5 linked regions of the Homo sapiens genome follow. The protein of the gene in region 2 purifies or fractionates together with the protein of the main gene of each other region. This does not show direct contact. Each region holds a gene or a part of one and is shown on either strand. Other genes may lie near its edges. The genes, in order: BORCS5, TRIML2, SRGAP2, SPEN and MTM1.

Region 1 (3,610 bases), on a different chromosome or scaffold from region 2:
GGTAGGATCTGAATAAGGTCAGATTATATCTATGTCAATATCCTGGTTGTGATATTGTACCATAGTTTTACAAGATGTTTCCATTGAGGGAAATTGGGTAAAGGGGACACGGGATCCTATACATAGGATCTCAATAAAAATTTCAATTAAAAAATTCCCAATTTCTGCTAATACTGGATTCACCAAAACATACTGCCTGGAAGCAGGTTCAGGTCAAGTAACTGGTGCTCTCCTGTGTTAGGACTTGTAGTGCAGCAGCTGAGCAGTGGAATGTGGAGGAGCCTAGCAGTGCCTCGGGTTCCAGCCCTGTATGCTGCTCTGTCTCAGAAGATCTGAGAGCATCGACCAGCATTTCCCAGGATTCTCTGGGACAACCTAGCTGGGTAGCCCTTCATACAGCCTGTCTGGAGGGAGAGAATACTGGCTTCAGCTCTAATATATCAGAACAGTGTGGTGTGGATGTTGGTGGTTGGGGACAGTGAGGGGTGGACATTGGTGGTTGGGGTCGGTGAGGAAGGGTTCCCAAGATGAGCTTTGGCCAGGTGAGGTGGCTTACACTGAGGCGGGAGGATCGCTTGAGCCCAGAAGTTCGAGACCAACCTGGGCAGCAAAACCCTGTCTCTACTAAAAATACAAAAACTAGCTGGCTGTGGTAACAAGTGCCTGTGGCCTCAGCTACTCTGGAGGCTGAGGTAGGAAGATTGCTTGGGTCCAGGAGGTCGAGGTTGCAGTGAGCTAAGATCACGCCACTGCACTCCAGATGGGCAACAGAGCAAGACTCTGTCTCAAAAAAAAAAAAAAAAAAAAAAAGCTTTGCTGTGCCCTGCACGTGACCTACTGTCATATGTATTCTGTGTTCCTTGTGCTGTAGCATTGGCTCTGCTGTGAGACAGAATGGTCTGGCATGTGGTAGGGCGATCACTGGGATCCCCAAGACCCTGCTAGGGAATCTCTGAGGTCAAAACTATGTTTGTAATAATACTTAGACATTATTTGCAAAACATGCTCATTCTCTTACAGAAGTGTCCAGTGGAGTTTTCCAGAGGCTAAATGATGTGAAATAGCAACAGATTAAATGCAGAAGCAGCTATGATATTCCAGCTGTTTTCTATTAAGGCAGACATTAAAAAGACATTAATAAAAATAAACCAGTGGCATCATTTCACTTTTTTGGTTTGGAAGAATATTTTCCTTAAAATGTTATTTTTGTTAATGTATAAAGGGGTTATCATTATATTTAAATGATTTAATATTTAAGAATGTTCTCAGTTTTAATTTTTATAGGTGAATATCAAAAGATAAAACTCACATAAAAGCTCTTTGGGGTCCTTGGTAATTTTTGAGAGTGTAGAGGTTCTGATAATTGAGAACTGTTGATTTGGCAGAAAGCAATAGGCTTAATTTCTAGACTGGGCTTTGCTTTGTGAATGTGGGCATCATTTGGCCTCTTCAATTGATTTCTTCTCCTGCAAATGCTATTAATTGCCCTGCTACATACCTATAAAAATATAATCCCCTATGCAAATACAGGGGAGATTAATGGTTACCTGGCTAAGCTGGTGTTGAAAGAAAATGTAAAGAATGAGTTTCTGGCCTGTTAGCTGACAGTCTGTTTACTTGTTAAATGTCTCCATTTTAGCATCTCCTAGCAGTTTCTGTATACATTTGATTTCTTTTTCTCAGTTTTTCAGACAACCATTTTAATTATTTTTAAAAATTATATTCCCACATTTTCAATTAATAAGGGATTTATATTCCTAGTACCTTGAAGTGATGTGATAAGGTCAGGAGCTCTGTTCTTGGAGAAACCACTTACTAGCTATGTGACGTTTGGAAAGTTACTTAACTTCTCTGTGTCTTGGCTTCCTCCTGTGTAAATGGAGCTAATAATACCTCACTTTCCAGGGCAGCTGTGAATACGAAAAATCGTGCACAAGAAGCACTTAGCAAAAGTGCTTGGCACATAACAGATGCCCCATAAATAATAATTGCAACGATTGTCATTAACATATAACAAAAGATGCAAGATTAAATTGAAGTCTTACCCTGTCTTCAGTGAACTTGTTAAACTACTTTATTCACAAGTTTATTAGCAGTAATTTTAATTTCATTTCATTTTTTTCTCCTTTGAAGGGCTATTGAGTGGCCAGACTTCCCCAACAAATGCCAAATTGGAGAAACTGGACTCTCAGCAGGTGTTGCAGCTCTGCCTCCGATATCAAGATCACCTGCATCAGTGTGCAGAGGCCGTTGCTTTTGACCAGAATGCTTTGGTTAAACGAATCAAAGAGGTAATGTGCTGCGGGAAAATAACATTGCTGACTGGTTGTTGTGATTCTCTGCAACTCTGGATGCCATCTTAAGACTTGACATTTGTCACTATTGCTTTGAGGAGATTGCTTTTTCCCAGCAGTAAAATGTGATGATGAAAAAAGTGGTCCACAGAGCTGGGCTAATTTAGAGTTTGAATTCTGATCACCACTGATTTGCTTGGCCAAGTTGCTTAACTTCTCTGTCTCAGTTTCCTCATGTGAAAAATGGGGCTAATAGTAGTAACTTACCCCAAGGGTTGAGTGACAGATTGCTTAGTAAGTGTTAGCTATTATTAGTGCATGTAAAGTCCTGCCATACTAATTTGCTCTAGCCACCATTCTGTCTTTGAATTGACTTTAATTGTTTCCTGTGTATAATTTATATTTTGTTTCCCAGTAGATTAAAATTTCTTTCAAAGCAGGAGCTTTGATACGAAAAGCTCCAGTGATTCTTAATGGTTTTATGGAAACAATTACGCCTATTTAACCCGCAAAGTTTTTAAAGGAAAGAAGCAATGTAATTCATGTGAAAGTACTTAGTAAACTGAAGCACATGATGCAAATGTTGTGTAATTATCAATCTCAGTAAATAGGTACTTCCTTTAAGCACTTAAATGTATCATTGACCAGCTGCTGCACAGCACAGTTCTAGGGGCATAAAGGAATAAGTAAGTACATTTTCCAAAGTTTCCAGTCAAGAAAAACTTTATATTCCTGATACCTTGATGTACTGTAATATCAAGGAAATGTTAGGAGCTGTTTACTGGAGAAACCACTTCTGTGAATGGCACTCCCAGATTTGTTTAACAAAGTGGCCCTTTAACTCTGGTGAGAGAAGATGGACATGGAGAAACAAGTGATGGAGCAAGAATCACTGCAGATTAACAATTTGTATTTAGCAATGGAGGTAGTGTATCCTTGAGATTACAAAGCAGTCATTAGTTATATTGACAGATTTAAATTTGCCAACACCTCCAACATTTTAGTGCTTAGCTTTCATAAAATGTTGCATGCATATACTCTTCTCTCATGGGTTAAATACTATTATTTGGAAAACTATTAAACATGACCTTTGATATTGCTTTTCATTGATGTGGCTTTGCAAATATTATAAACTTATTTTACTATATTATGGTCTACCAAGCTTTACTTTCCAAACATGACTATTCATTGGCATCATGTGAGTTTTTTGTTTGTTTTAATACTGAGTTCTCCCCTCCTCCCAGTAAGTCTAGGTGTGGTCTGTGAATCATTATTTTAATAAGATGTTATGGTTTGGCTGTGTCCCTACCCAAATC
Region 2 (3,610 bases):
GTCTCTACTAAAAAATCGGGTGTGGTGGCAGGTGCCTGTAGTCCCAGCTACTCAGGTGACTGAGGCAGGAGAATGGCATGAACTTTGGAGGCGGAGCTTGCAGTGAGCCGAGATGGCGCCACTGCACTCCAGCCTGGGCGACAGAGCGAGACTCCGTCTCAAAAAAAAAAAAAAAAAAAAAAAAACCAAGAGAGTAAAAGCAGAGGTGGAGAGACGTGCAAAGGGACTTGCAATAATTAGGGAGAGATGATGGTGAGCTGGGGGACAGGTAGAGCAGTGGTGAGAAGTAGTCAGGTTCTTGATAAATCTTGATTTCATTGAATCTTTTTTTTTTTTTTTTTGAGATGAAGTTTCGTTCTTGTTACCCAGGCTAGAGTTCAGTGACGCGATCTCGGCTCACTGCAACCTCCGCCTCCCGGGTTCAAGCAATTCTCCTGCCTTAGTCTCCCAGGTAGCTGACATTACAGGGGCCCGTCATCATGCCTGGCTAATTTTTTTATTTTTAGTAGAGACGGGGTTTCACCATGTTGGTCAGGCTGGTCTCGAACTGCTGACCCCATGATCCACCTGCCTTGGCCTCCCAAAGTGCTGGGATTACAGACGTGAGCCCGGACAATTTCACTGAATCTTAAATAGCTTAATAGAGATGCTATTTAAGCATCTCTAAGATGACTACTTTCAAATATATATCCCTAGCTCAGATTTCCAAATGGTAGTAGGCTTCATGTCCAATTTCCTACTTACTATCTTTACTTGGATGTCTAATTGACTAATCAAATTCATCACATCCCGAGCTAACGCACACTCCTCACTTCTGGAATCCAGCCTTTCCATAGATTCTCTCTATATATTTTGGTAATTCCATTCTTCCAGTTGCTTAGTCTAAAATTTTTGGTGTCTTTCGTCCATGACTCCTTTTTTCCCCACAACTCTTACCCAAGCATCAGCAAATCCCATTGGCCCTTTTCCAATGTCCTGGTCTCCTCCTCTGTTTGACAGAGGCTATAGCTTCCTTAGTTTTTCCTTATTGATGAACATTTCTTTTTTTTTTTTTTTTTTTTAAGATGGAGTCTCCCTCTGTCGCCCAGGCTGGAGTGCGGTGGCGCCATCTCGGCTCACTGCAAGCTCCACCTCCCGGGTTCACGCCATTCTCCTGCCTCAGCCTCCCGAGTAGCTGGGACTACAGGCGCCCGCCACCAAGCCCGGCTAATTTTTTGTATTTTTAGTAGAGACGGGGTTTCACCGTGTTAGCCAGGATGGTCTCGATCTCCTGACCTCGTGATCCGCCTGCCTCGGCCTCCCAAAGTGCTGGGATTACAGGCGTGAACCACCGCGCCCAGCCAATTCATTGATGAACATTTCTTCGTCTGCATTTTATGTTCTAAAATTGTGTTGATGTCTTGGCTGATGTTGACTCAAATTCTATTTCTCCTTTGGGTTTATTCCTTTTCTTCTGTACTTTACATTTCCTCGTCTTTTTTTGTTTGTTTGTTTTTTTGAGACAGAGTCTAGCTCTGTTGCCAGGCTGGAGTGCAGTGGCGTAATCTCTGCTCACTGCAACCTCCACCTCCCAGGTTCAAGCGATTCTCCTGCCTTAGCCTTCCGAGTAGCTGGGATTATGGGTGCTCCCCACCACGCCCAGCTAATTTTTGTATTTTTAGTAGAGATGGGGTTTCACCATGCTGGCCAGTATGGTCTCGATCTCCTGACCTCGTGATCCACCCACTTTGGCCTCCCAAAGTGCTGGGATTGCAGGCGTGAGCCACTGCGCCCAGCCTTCCTTGTCTTTATATTGGGGTTAGAGATGGAAAGAATACATTGTGGTCAGTGTAAGATATATATATCTATATATAGATATAGATATCTATCTATTATGACGTGTGTGTGTGTTGTTAATCTATCATGTTTAACCTGAAGTCTATCATGTCTATATGAGGAAGGAAGAGGAACAAAATTTTAAAAAGATGATTGAGTCTGAGTATAGTATGAGACTCCGGTTGTTGAATGAAGAGTGTGAGCAGAATCTCCAGAGACAGCAGGAATGCATATCTGACTTGAACCTGAGAGAAACCCTTCTGAATCAAGCGATCAAGCTTGCCACCGAGCTAGAGGAGATGTTCCAGGAAATGCTACAGGTGAGATATTGAAAACAACATCCTCATATTTGAGAAATGAGAAAAAGAAGAGCTAAACATTATGTCAATTCCAAAATAACATAGCCAGTGACAACCACACATGTATTAAATGAATTATATACCTACCTGGCAACTCCATTTCTATGAATTTATCTTGACATGCATATAAAAAGACATAAATAAAGCACAATATACCTATAAATATATTTGTACACATATTACTGTATTATGCTTCAAACATACTTACACACATAGAAAAAGACACCTGGGTAAGGCAACACTGAAACTGAGTTTCAGTTTAGAGCCATGGTTTAGAATTCACCTTTCTTTTTTTTGAGACAGAGTCTGGCTCTGTCTCCAGGCTGGAGTGCAGTGGCGCAATCTCAGCTCACTGCAAGCTTCGCCTCCCGGGTTCACGCCATTCTCCTGCCTCAGCCTCCCAAGTAGCTGGGATTACAGGTGCCCGCCACTACGCCCGGCTAATTTTTTGTATATTTAGTAGAGACGGGGTTTCACCGTGTTAGCCAGGATGGTCTCGATCTCCTGACCTCATGATCCACCCGCCTCAGCCTCCCAAAGTGCTGGGATTACAGGCGTGAGCCACCGCGCCCGGCCTAGAATTCACCTTTGAAGCCGGATGAATGGAGTTCCTATCTGAGCCAGCTGTTTACTGGCTCCTGGGTGGCCTACGACCTGCTGCTTAACCTTTGACTTGGTTCCTTTAGCTGTAAACTGGATATAACAGTGACCCCTAATTTATAAAATTATTGTGAGATTTGAGTGAGATAATCTGCTAAAGCTTATTAAATCGTGTCTTGTTCATGTTAAGCAGTTGATGAGTAGCAGATGTTACAATTATAACATTCATAGCAAGAGGTTAGAAACACCCTGTATTTGTCAATAGAAGACTCACAAAATGTGCTCCATACATACATGGAAGAATACTCTTCAGCATGTTAAGATGATGTCATGGCTCTGTGTATATGAATAAGGAATGTTCTCCAAGAATAAAGTAAGTTGTCAGATTAGTAATCAAATATAATAAACTATCACTTATGTTTATGTTTTTTCCCCCTAAATAACATACTCAAGTTGCGTATGTGACTACGCAGTATATGTAAAGTATACTTGGAAGGATAAAAAGAAAATTGATATCAGTAACGTAATTATTTATTTCTTATTAGTTAATCTATATACCTTAATTTTAATTGATTTCAAGTTAATGAAAAAATAGGGAACCTTCTGAACAAACAGCCACAGAAAAAACATGAAATGTTTTAGGTGCATATTAATGTGAGTAAGGGCTGCGTGCACACACATCTGTATTGGCTTAAACATACATAACAGGGGGCAAAGAATCAACTGTCTCTTGAGAGGAATCCTGCTTCAGCAGAAGAATATCATGGCCTTGCCTAATTATGTCTGTTCCTGGGGTAGCAGGCAGAAAAGCAGGGTTTTTTTTTTTTTGGTTTTGG
Region 3 (3,610 bases), on a different chromosome or scaffold from region 2:
ACCAGGGTTGTAAAGAATTTCCAGAGATTAATGTACATCAGCCCTCCCCATACCTGCAGGTTCCATATCTGCAGATTCAACCAAATGGGAATGGAAAATATTCAAGAAAAAAAAAAAAACAATAAAAATACCAATACAACAATTTAAAATAATACAAATTTTAAAAGCAGTATAACTATTTACATAGCATTTACACTGTATTAGGTATTATAAGTAATCTAGAGATGATTTAAAGTATACAGAAGGACGTGTGTACATAGGTTATACGCAAATACCACACCATTAGTTATCAGGGACTTGAGCATCTGCAGATTTTGGTATCCTGGGGGAAGTGGGGGTAGTCCTTGAACCAATCCCCTGAGGATACTGACGGACAACTACATATGAAAGCATAATGTAAATTGGAAAGAGCTATGTAAAAAGACTAAGAATATTATTGCTTTCAAGTCAGACATTGAGAGGCATGAACTTTCCAAGGAATCTGGGCACCCACAAACCAGAAACAATGATGGTTTTTAAGAAGACACTACAAGGCAGGCTGACTAAGGAGGCACACCCCTCATAAAACCACTCTGGGGTAGGGTTGGGGCTGAAGCCTCAGGAGTTCCTCAGGGCACATGCAAGCAGGTGGTTTATAGGGAGGCAAAAATCAAGGGATAGGGAGGGTCCCAGAAAGTCCCATGAGATGAGGGTCCCATTTAGAGTCCATTTGACTCAAACAATTCTGATTGAAAAAACAGGACCTGGGACTCTGGTCAAAGACAGGCCGAACCACAGTGGCCAATAATTAGTTTACTTGTTCACTGACAGAAAAAGAAACTGATGTCCAGAGGGTTTAAGTGACTGACCCAAGATGTTTTGTTACAACTAAATGATCTTAAGCTAGAACTTAAGTTTCATTCCTTACTTATTTCCTATCATTTAATAGCTGGCACTTTGGGAGTGAATATGCAATGCAGCCTCAATAGTCAGCCCAATTCAGCAAAAGAAAGGCTCACAGAGAAGTAGACCGTACCATTATTGAGCACTTACAAGTGCAAGATACTGTTCTAAATAATTTATATATCTCATCAACAACTCACTACTATCTTAGGAAATGTATTTTATTTTACCTATTTTCCAAATAAGGAAACTGAGGCTCAGACAAGTCATGTAACTTGCCTGAAGTGAAAGGCTAGCTACTGTCAGAACCAAGATTTAAACCTGAATCACTTTGACTCTAAAAATTGCACTTAACAACCAAACCAAACTGCATAGCTGTTACAGCAATTTTCTTTTTATCTTGGCATCTGTAAGAGAAGTAAGTCTGGCAGCACCATGAGTCCCATATAACACACAAAAAGCTGACACTCATAATAATTCTGACCCAGGGCTTCTAGCTAGTCGGGGGCAGAGCCAAACCAGATCGCAGGCCCTTTGTCTCCAAATTCTGTGCTGTTCCATAGAGAGCCCAGCTTCCAGAATATAAGCTCCATGAGGGTAGAGACTTTTTCTTCTTCACAGCTGTATGGCCAATCACCAGAACACACAGCAAGCACTCAATAAATAGTTAATGAATAAAGGAATGAAGTCAAGCTGCCATGGTTTGGCTGTGTGACCTTGGAAGGGCTTCTCATCCTCTCTAAGCCTCAGTTTCCTTATATGGTGAATGGAAGGTGACAATAATACCCATTTCCTGGGTTGAGGTAAGGATTAAACCAGACCATTCATTTAAAGCACTTGGGATGGACTGGAACATAATGAGCAACCAAAATGTAATCTATTATCATTATCATTATTACTATTATTATTCATTGACAGATTTGGGCTCCTTAAGAATTTTTTATTTTTTTCCACCCTGGTCAGATGATGTTTCATAGTAAAGATACAGAATAGAGAATTGAGAGTTGGTAAATCTGCTTCTAGTTTCAGATCTGCCACCATCTAGCCGTGTGACCTTGGACAAGCCTCTTCAGTTCTCTGTATTCTCCTCAGCTGTAAAATGAAGGACTAAACTATTCAAATCAGTTCCATAAGCATTCATCAGGCACCTTCTCGGAGTAAGACATCATGCTCAGCCACCTATAAAATTCTATGATCCTGAATAGTATCAATGGGAAAATATCAGAGCAAAGCAAAATAGTCTGTTTGTGGCAAGGTTGAAGAGAGAACCCAAATAGCCGACTGCATTACATCATCTCAATGAGCAATGTTTGTAAATATCCAAAGTGTTTAATTTTGAGACACTCTTGAGAAATCCTTTGCCAATAAGAAATTGGCAGATATGGTTCTATTAACACCTATCAGCCTTGAACCTTCCAAAAATTAAACATTTAAAGTCACTTTGCACCTTAGTCAAATGGCGTGCTTCTGGAGAGAAATCTGGGAAGATCAAAGTTATTAACACTCCCGATGGCAACAGTTTAAGAATAGGATGTGTTAAAAAAAAAAAAAAAAAAAGACATATCTGGTTAAAACTGCAGGGGGGATTCCAAGAGCAAATGCAATGCATCTGGACAGGACATGGAGGCCAGTGGCCTATTGTTTACAAAAACAAGCCTGGATTATGAACAGTGACAAGAGGCCAAGACCTCAATAATAACTCACAACCACACCTCTCTCAATCCCAGTTCAACTGAAGCTATCAATCAGTCAACTCCCCCATCTCTGTAATAAACCTACCAATATTTGCAGCCAAGTGGATAGAAGGCCCCTTAGGGCACCTCCAGCACTGACCAAACTAATGACATAAAAAAGATCCTGTAGGTACAATGAGGACTTCAGACTACCTTCCAACCTTCCAAGAGATAAGGGAGCTGCCCATTTCAAACTCTACACCTACCCCCACCCCCCAGCAATCATTAGAGGGGAGCCATGGCCCTTCCCAAGTCCTCTCTGATAGGAAAAGGTCTCCTTGCACTGGTGCAGGGAAAGGAGGGGCCCCTCCCTCTGTACTCTGAAACAAAGGAAAACCCAGAGCTCCAACCATGTGGTGTAACATTCAAGGCCACCCACCTCTTCCACTCCCCAGCTAAGGTCTCAATGGGCTGGAGCCACATGGCTCTTTCCAGTGACTGACCAGGAAGGGACAGTGCCTTGCACAAACACATGCTGCAGCTCTTTAACAGGCAGGAACCCTTCCTATGGGAACTGCTGGTTTAAAAAACGCTATCTGAGTAAGGGCTCTTATTCATGAGTCAAGTCAGTCGACTAGATGAGAAGACAGGTCACTTGGTTTCTCCTAGTCCACATTTTGCTTTACCCTTCACATTTTTCAGGAGAGGGAAATGGGGCTTTAAAAGCATGTCTTCCGGAGCAGAGGGCCACAGCACAGAAGGGTTAAACAATTATGTCTTCCCATTTTCCAGAATCAGCACCAACCGGCTACCCTAACATCCTCCCAACTCTATTCAGATTTAGGTGAGGGCGGAGACCGGGCGTGGGTGGCCTTATTCTCTGATCTCTGATTGTATGCAGGCCGACCAGAGACCAGGCAGGTACAAGGTACACCCAAGGTGGCAATGGACTTTTGGTGCCAATGCCATTGCAAATCTCATGTTTTAATATAGTGCATCCGAAAAACCCCGCCTCTCCCAAGGCTCTCCAAATGGTACACCTTCCCAAGGTTGCC
Region 4 (3,610 bases), on a different chromosome or scaffold from region 2:
ATTTAGAGTAAATAATGTAGTCTGAAAATACCTTGAGTGTATATATTCATTAAATTGGGCTCCTGAATTGTGTTATTAGATGATTTGAAATAAGTGCTGTTCAGCCCCTTGAAACACATATATTAGCCTGCTGAACAAGGAGACTAAATAAAGTACATTTATCTGTAGTTAAATTAACAATCTTCTTTACTATTTGGTTTAAATTTTTCTTTAAACTTATTATTTTTACTTGCCTTACAGCTACACATATTTTGAATGAAAATAGTGTACTCCTCTGTGGAAACCAATTAGAATGTTAATCATTTTATTAGAAAGCATGTAGTTTTTTTTTGTTTGTTTTTGAGACGGAGTTTCGCTCCTGTTGCCCAGGCTGGAGTGCAATGGTGCTATCTCGGCTCACCGCGACCTCTGCCTCCCAGGTTCAAGCAATTCTGCCTCAGCCTCCCAAGTAGCTGGGATTACAGGCATGCACCACCACACCCAGCTAATTTTGTGTTTTTAGTAGAGACGGGGTTTCTCTGTGTTGAGGCTGGTCTCGAACTCTTAACCTCAGGTGATCTGCCCACCTCGGCCTCCCAAAGTGCTGGGATTATAGGTGTGAGCCACCGCGACCGGCCAAAACCATGTAATTTTTATGTGATATCTAGCTGGTTTTTAGTGTGTGGAAATATGCTTTGCAGTGAGTGAAAAGATTTTTTGGATATAATTTTAAAGTATCTCAATATTCAGATTGTTCTCCCTACATGTATTCCTGTCTGCCAAGTTGAAGATTACAAGCATCTAAAAAAACCATAGTGGAATGGCTCTATAAAATCCTAACTTAAATTTAGTGAATTCTTGGATTTAATTACTTATGATTTCATTTTGAGTATAGAAATGAAATGAACTCTAGCATATTTAAAGATTTGTATTATATAGTTTAAGGAACTGCTCCAATCCTTAGAATTAAGGAAGATTTGTGGGAAAATTCAAATGAGAAACACTATTTCTTATCCTGTGTACCTGGTGCTAGATTTTTAGTCCAGCCTTAAATGCAAGGGTTGCATGTGCCTGTCTTTGTATTAGATGCTGTTTGGGTCACTAGGGAACATTGCCAAATGATATGAAGATTCTTTTAATTATACATTGTATTGACTTTGATTGTTATATTCCCATTATGTTACACATAACGTATGTACTTTTACATATAATACATTTATAGTTTCTTTGATTCTTAAAATTGACTAAAAGTGATTTTTTTTTTACACATCATTTATTTTTCCTTTGATTTAAAAACTGGGGCTTATGTACTCAAAAAACATTTTGCAGTTTACAAAACTATATTTAACATATAGCGATTTGTCTTTTACCAATCAAATTGGTAGGTAGAAGTATTTTGTCTGAACCAGTAATTTTTTTAAATTACACTGTTTGCAGCTGGGTGCGGTGGCTCATGCCTGTAATCCCAGCACTTTGGGAGGCTGAGGCGGGCGGGCGGATCATGAGGTCAGGAGTTTGAGACGAGCCTGGCCAACATGGTGAAACCCTATCTCTACTAAAAATACAAAAAATTAGCCTGGCATGGTGGCAAGCACCTATAATCCCAGCTACTCGGGAGGCTGAGGCAGGAGAATCGCTTGAACCCAGGAGGTGGAGGGTGCAGTGAGCCAAGATCATGCCATTGCACTCCAGCCTGGGTGACAGAGCAAGACTCTGTCTCGAGAAAAAAAAAAAATTATGCTGTTTGCAGTGAAGGCTCATTTGCATTCAAGATTATTTAAAAGTGTCCTTGGATTAAAAGATAAAAGAGTAATTTATTACTTTATTGTGTGAAAAGGATGCTAGAACTTTTTTTTTTTTTTTTTTTTGAGACGGAGTTTCTCTCTCTTGCCCAGGCTGGAGTGCAGTGGTGTGATCTCGGCTCACTGCAAGCTCCACCTCCTGGGTTCACACCATTCTGCGTCAGCCTCCCAAATAGCTGGGATTACAGGCACCTGCCACCACACCCGGCTAATTTTTTTGTATTTTTAGTAGAGACGGGGTTTCACCATGTTAGCCAGCATGGTCTCGATCTCCTGACCTCAGGATCCGCCCGCCTCGGCCTCCCAAAGTGCTGGGATTACAGGTGTGAGCCACCGTGCCCGGCCAGATGTTAGAATCTTTAATGAAGACCTCATCGATCAGAATTCAGGAGGAAGTACTAAACTTGGGTGGGAAAATACCTCTTTATTTTTAGTAACTTCTTACTGGGATCTAATATTTCCTTCAACTATAATATAGAGAAAACTAATAGTAGTTGTGATTTTCGTCACCAATACAAATCATATATATTTTCATATTTTATATTACAGTTTTTGCAAATACTTCATTATTGTCATCACAACTTGGAAATTACAGTGGCTGTTAGATCTGCTGCCAGATACTTTTTTTTTTTTTTTTTTTTGAGACAGAGTCTTGCTGTGTCACCCAGGCTGGAGTGCAATGGCATGATCTCGGCTCACTGCAACCTCTGCCTCCCAGGTTCCAGCAATTCTCCTGCCTCAGTTTCTCGAGTAACTGGAATTACAGGCGCCCACCACCATGCCCAGCTAATTTTTGTGTTTTTAATAGAGACGGGGTTTCACCATGTTGGCTAGGCTGGTCTTGAACTCCTGATCTTAGGTGATCCGCCCACCTCGACTTTACAATGTGCTGGGATTACAGTCATAAGCCACTGCGCCTGGCCTAGATACTTTTATTTGGTGTGTTAGTAAAGAAGCATATATATTACTATATGATCAATTTGTGTTATATATCTTAAAAATTCTATCTCAGGAATTTTGAACATACACAAAAGTGGACACAATAGTCAGTGAATCCCAAGTTCCTCTCGTTCATCTCCAACAACCATCAGTTATGGCCTATCTGCTTTTCTCCTTCCTGTATTTTTTTTTTTCTTGAGACAGGATCTCACTTTGTCACCCATGCTGGAGTGCAGTGGTGTGATCACTGCTTACTGTGTCCCTTCAACCTCCCGGGCTCAAGAGATCCTCCCATCTTAGCTTTCCAAGTAGCTAGGACTACAGGCGCACACCACCATACTCGGCTAATTTTTGTATTTTCTGTAGAGACAAGGTCTCACTCTGTTGCCCAGGCTGGTCTCGAACTCCTGGGCTCAAGTGATCTGTCTGCCTCGGCCTCTCAAAGTGCTGGGATTACAGGTGTGAGCCACTGCACCCAGCCTTTTTTTTTTGAGACGGAGTCTCGTTCTGTTGCCCAGGCTGGAGTGCAGTGGCGTGATCTCAGCTCACTGCAACCTCTGCCTCCCGGGTTCAAGCTATTCTTGTGCTTCAGCCTCCTGAGTAGCTGGGATTACAGGCGTGTGCTACCACGCCCAGCTAGTTTTTGTATTTTTAGTAGAGACAAGGTTTCACCATGTTGGCCAGGCTGGTCTTGAACTCCTGACCTCAAGTGATCTGCCTGCCTCAGCCTCCCAAAGTGCTGGTATTACAGGCGTGAGCCACCGTGCCCGGCCCCTATTTATTTATTTATTTTCATAAAAAAATTGTTTTTTTTCTACCCAGGTTGGAGTGTAATGGCATAATTATGGTTCACTGCAGCCTCGACCTCCTGGGCTTGAGGTATCCTCCCA
Region 5 (3,610 bases), on a different chromosome or scaffold from region 2:
TACATTATTCTAGCTATGTCTTAATAAACTTTTGGAATCCAGTAGCTTGCTTTTCTCGACATTTCTCTGCATTTCCTTGTTGGCACGAGCTTTTGGTTCCAGGCGACGCTGGCAGCAGTGTCCTCCGTTCTTGCAGTGCTATATTCCCTTTACCATTTGGACTTAGAAATTTCTTGAGGCCAAATTTTGTTGCTACAAACAATAATAGAGCAAGAGAGGCCTTCTTCTAGTTTATCTGCCTTGAAAGTGAGAGTGTATCAGGAGACCCAGTAGGAGTTACTGAGTTAGGTCCCGTTGTCATCCTGTAGTTGGGGGAAGATTTTTCATTGGAAATCTTTGCAGTGTATTTTTCCACTGTGAGTACCACGACAGTCTCATCTTTTTCTTTTTAAGAATGTGGAGGCATCTCTTTAGATAATTGGCATTGTGTACTACTAGTGCTTTCTATTTCTACCAGAGGAACTATGGTAAATGAGCCTTTTGTTTGTGTGAGGTGGTAGAAAGCTTCCTGCATTTGGATTCCAGAAGCTGAGTTCAGGTCCCAGTTCTCTTCCTTAACTCTGTGTCACTGGACAAGTCATTTAACCTTGCTGCTAGTGGCTCTTCCATCTGTAAGATAGAGCTAATAAAACCTGCCCTGCCAAGTTTCCAGAGTTCGTCAGAGAATCAAATGTGCCTCAGAGCCCTTTGTAAAGTGTGCAGCATTATTATTATTGCATGAATGTGTTGTATAAGCAGTTGCTATTTGGAGAACTGGTATAAGAGGGCAGTTGTCCTTCCTGTTCTTGGACTGTCTTCCCTGTGGCTGTAGGTGTGGCCTCTCTGCCTCAATCTCCCTCTTCTGTCATCATTAAAATATGCAGGTATTTATATTGCCTCTTTCATAGGGGCCTGATGTCACTGGTATACCATAACAAGTTTTTGTTTTATGTATTCCTAAAATGGTAGTAGTGTATAACCAACAATCACAGGGTGACAGCAAGGCAAGCTCAGCCTCAGGGAATGTTGCCTGCCTCTCCCAAGTGTCTCAGAATGGAAGACTTTCTCTTTTCCAATCGAGACCTGACCGCAGCTCCTGAGTCCATACTAGACTGGATGCTTGTGCTTCTGGGGTTAGAATAAAAAGCGATCCAGGCTCTGGGGAAGAGATGGTTGATAGCTCCCCAGGTCTGTACCATCCTCCTTGCTGGAACAGGGCAGGCTCCTGAGTGATAGGGCAGGCGCCTGAGCGGCCTTTTCTCGTTAAAGTTGTTTCTCAGTATCTTGAAATGTCTCTGTAAGTTGCACTTTGCAATGAATTTCATGTACTTGTATTAGTTTAGTATTGCTGTTCCTTGACTGTTTGTCTTAATAGGTAACTCCTACATATTTCAGTATGTTTTTCATTTTCTATGATTGTAATAAAAAGGGCGAGGTTGGAGATATTTTTTCTGATTGTCTGAAACCTAAGATGGTCCTATACACACAGTAGACATTTAGTAAACATTATTTAACTTGAACTAGACAAAGGAGGCCAGCTTAGAATTGTTCACACATGATCATTGTAACCAATTCTGTTGCATGTCTAGAGATCATGCTCCCTGTCTGCCAGATGAAATGGAGCTCATGCTTAACCTTTCTTGCCGTGGTCAAACAGCAAATGAGAAAGTTCTTTGAATCAGTCATTGTCTTGCCACCCTTTTCTTCTCAGCTTCTTGATTTTTGAACTCTTGGCATGAGCAGTTTGAGTACAGATTAGTTTTTGCTTTGCTTGCTAGTATGTTTGGGGTGGGAAGTTGAAGGGGGAATAATTGAAAGTAAAAATAAAAGTTGTTTGTAACTCATTCATCTCTTATCCCCTTGCCTCCAAACCCTGACAGCACACAGCAATGCCCTTTCTTTAGCATGTGATAATTGTTATATTTTGATAGCATGTCCTTGAACTTTTTTGTGAGAAGGAAGCATTGTTTATTTCCCAGAGCCTTTTGCTTGGAATGTAATGGATTGCTACATCAGTTATCCTTTCCCCTTCTTGGGAGATGTAGAGGCAGAGGTGGGTTATAAGGTAGATTCTTAGCATCAGGTGGTGGTGCTTTAAATTCCCTTATATGACTTTTAAATTGCTTTATGGCCCTGAGACAACTTAGGTGGGGATTTAGGAGAATAGGTACTATGCTGGAATCCAGCAGGCCTGGAATTGGCCCAAGCTCTTTTACTGAAATAAGAAATGTACCTGCCTGCACAGCAGTGACCCTTGGCCATGACATGAAATATACCTGCGTGTCAGTACTGTTTGTGGATAACAGTAAGAAGGAAAGTTTGCACTTGGTTTCAGTGAGACCCCAGGAGGGCGCTGCGGTTAACACGGGTTATGTGACTAGGAGGATATGAGAAACCCCAGCCAGTATTCCATTTTGAGTTTCCTGGTTCTGAGGTGTTCCTTGCCCATGTCAGTGGTTCTGGATCTGGGAGAGAAAGCACAGGTCCCTACTGCCCTAACAAAGGGAGGACTGACCGTTGGTGCTGGCCCCCACCTCTTTGAATCCCTTGCTTGGAGAGAGAACTGATTTTTTCAAAGTTGAAGCTGAGTCTAACTCTGCTGGACATGTCCTTCCTTCACTATATCAACTCTAATAATCTCCCCAGAGATTCCCATTACGCCTATGGCATGAAACAGGTTTTTCTTATTGATGGGGATTGCCCTTGCTCCCCGGGAGCTGGTGAAACAGGCAGAATTTCAAGCCCCATCCTCACCCACTGAGACCCACCACCGACTCCTTAAGCTGAATGTGAATTTTAATGAGGCCCCCGGGTGATTTTGCAGTAAATTAAAGTTCGGAAATAGTCTAATAGTACCAGCTCATATCCTGGCTTCCCAGTCCTTTAAGATAGCGCTAGCCAATAGAGAATGTGTAATTTAAAATTTTCTAGTAGCCACATTGAACAAGTAAAGAAACAGGTGAAATCAATTTTAATATATTTAACACAGCATGTGCGAAATATTTCAATGTGTCATCGACATAATAATGACACGTTTTTCCTTTTTTGGTACTAAATTGTCAATCAGGTGTATATTTTACATTATAGCCCATCTCAGTTTGGATTAGCCACAGTTCAAGTGTTCAGGAGCTACAGCTGTGGAGAGATACATTTGGTCTTGATTTGCTGAGGATTTCATCAGATTCACTGTCAATGCTTAAATAGCCGCCTCAGTCATAATTTACATTAATATTAGGTGTAATCTTTGCCAAGTCCTTAGCCCAGTGCTTTTACATCAGGTCTCATATGAATCCTCACAGCATCGCTTTGAGGTAAAAACTGTTAAGATCCCCACTGAGTTTCAGAGAGGTTAGGTCTAAGCTGAAGCGTTTAGGAAGCAGTAATATCAGGATTTGAACCCAGGCAAGTCTGACTTCTGGGTTTGCAGCCTCCGCTGCAACTTCCTGCAGCTCTCATGACTACAGGGTTTTTTCTCGGTTTCAGTTTTTAGTTTTGTAAGCCATATTAAAAAGGCACCATTGGTATATGTATGAAATGCAATCTTCTTTCTTGAGGGGAACTTCAAAGAACTCGAGGAATGCCTCTTTCTTCTCTGGCTTTTCAGAGCTGGTGCAGAGTCCCTAAACAGAAG

What was found.
Region 1: the proteins of TRIML2 (region 2) and BORCS5 purify together in Homo sapiens (affinity purification with mass spectrometry; 2 studies listed by BioGRID and IntAct, with this or other methods). This does not show direct contact.
Region 3: the proteins of TRIML2 (region 2) and SRGAP2 purify together in Homo sapiens (affinity purification with mass spectrometry; 2 studies listed by BioGRID and IntAct, with this or other methods). This does not show direct contact.
Region 4: the proteins of TRIML2 (region 2) and SPEN purify together in Homo sapiens (affinity purification with mass spectrometry; 2 studies listed by BioGRID and IntAct, with this or other methods). This does not show direct contact.
Region 5: the proteins of TRIML2 (region 2) and MTM1 purify together in Homo sapiens (affinity purification with mass spectrometry; 2 studies listed by BioGRID and IntAct, with this or other methods). This does not show direct contact.

What each region holds. Positions count from the first base shown.
Region 1 is NC_000012.12:12,433,495-12,437,104, forward strand, and holds part of BORCS5 (BLOC-1-related complex subunit 5), read left to right. Parts: intron 1-2,133; coding exon 2,134-2,291; intron 2,292-3,610.
Region 2 is NC_000004.12:188,099,581-188,103,190, reverse strand, and holds part of TRIML2 (probable E3 ubiquitin-protein ligase TRIML2), read left to right. Parts: intron 1-1,917; exon of another isoform or gene 1,918-1,931; coding exon of another isoform or gene 1,932-1,940; coding exon 1,941-2,135; intron 2,136-3,610.
Region 3 is NC_000001.11:206,206,452-206,210,061, reverse strand, and holds part of SRGAP2 (SLIT-ROBO Rho GTPase-activating protein 2), read right to left. Parts: intron 1-3,610. UniProt on the Homo sapiens protein: Postsynaptic RAC1 GTPase activating protein (GAP) that plays a key role in neuronal morphogenesis and migration mainly during development of the cerebral cortex. Regulates excitatory and inhibitory synapse maturation and density in cortical pyramidal neurons.
Region 4 is NC_000001.11:15,854,164-15,857,773, forward strand, and holds part of SPEN (msx2-interacting protein), read left to right. Parts: intron 1-3,610. UniProt on the Homo sapiens protein: May serve as a nuclear matrix platform that organizes and integrates transcriptional responses. In osteoblasts, supports transcription activation: synergizes with RUNX2 to enhance FGFR2-mediated activation of the osteocalcin FGF-responsive element (OCFRE).
Region 5 is NC_000023.11:150,571,620-150,575,229, forward strand, and holds part of MTM1 (myotubularin), read left to right. Parts: intron 1-3,610. UniProt on the Homo sapiens protein: Lipid phosphatase which dephosphorylates phosphatidylinositol 3-monophosphate (PI3P) and phosphatidylinositol 3,5-bisphosphate (PI(3,5)P2). Has also been shown to dephosphorylate phosphotyrosine- and phosphoserine-containing peptides.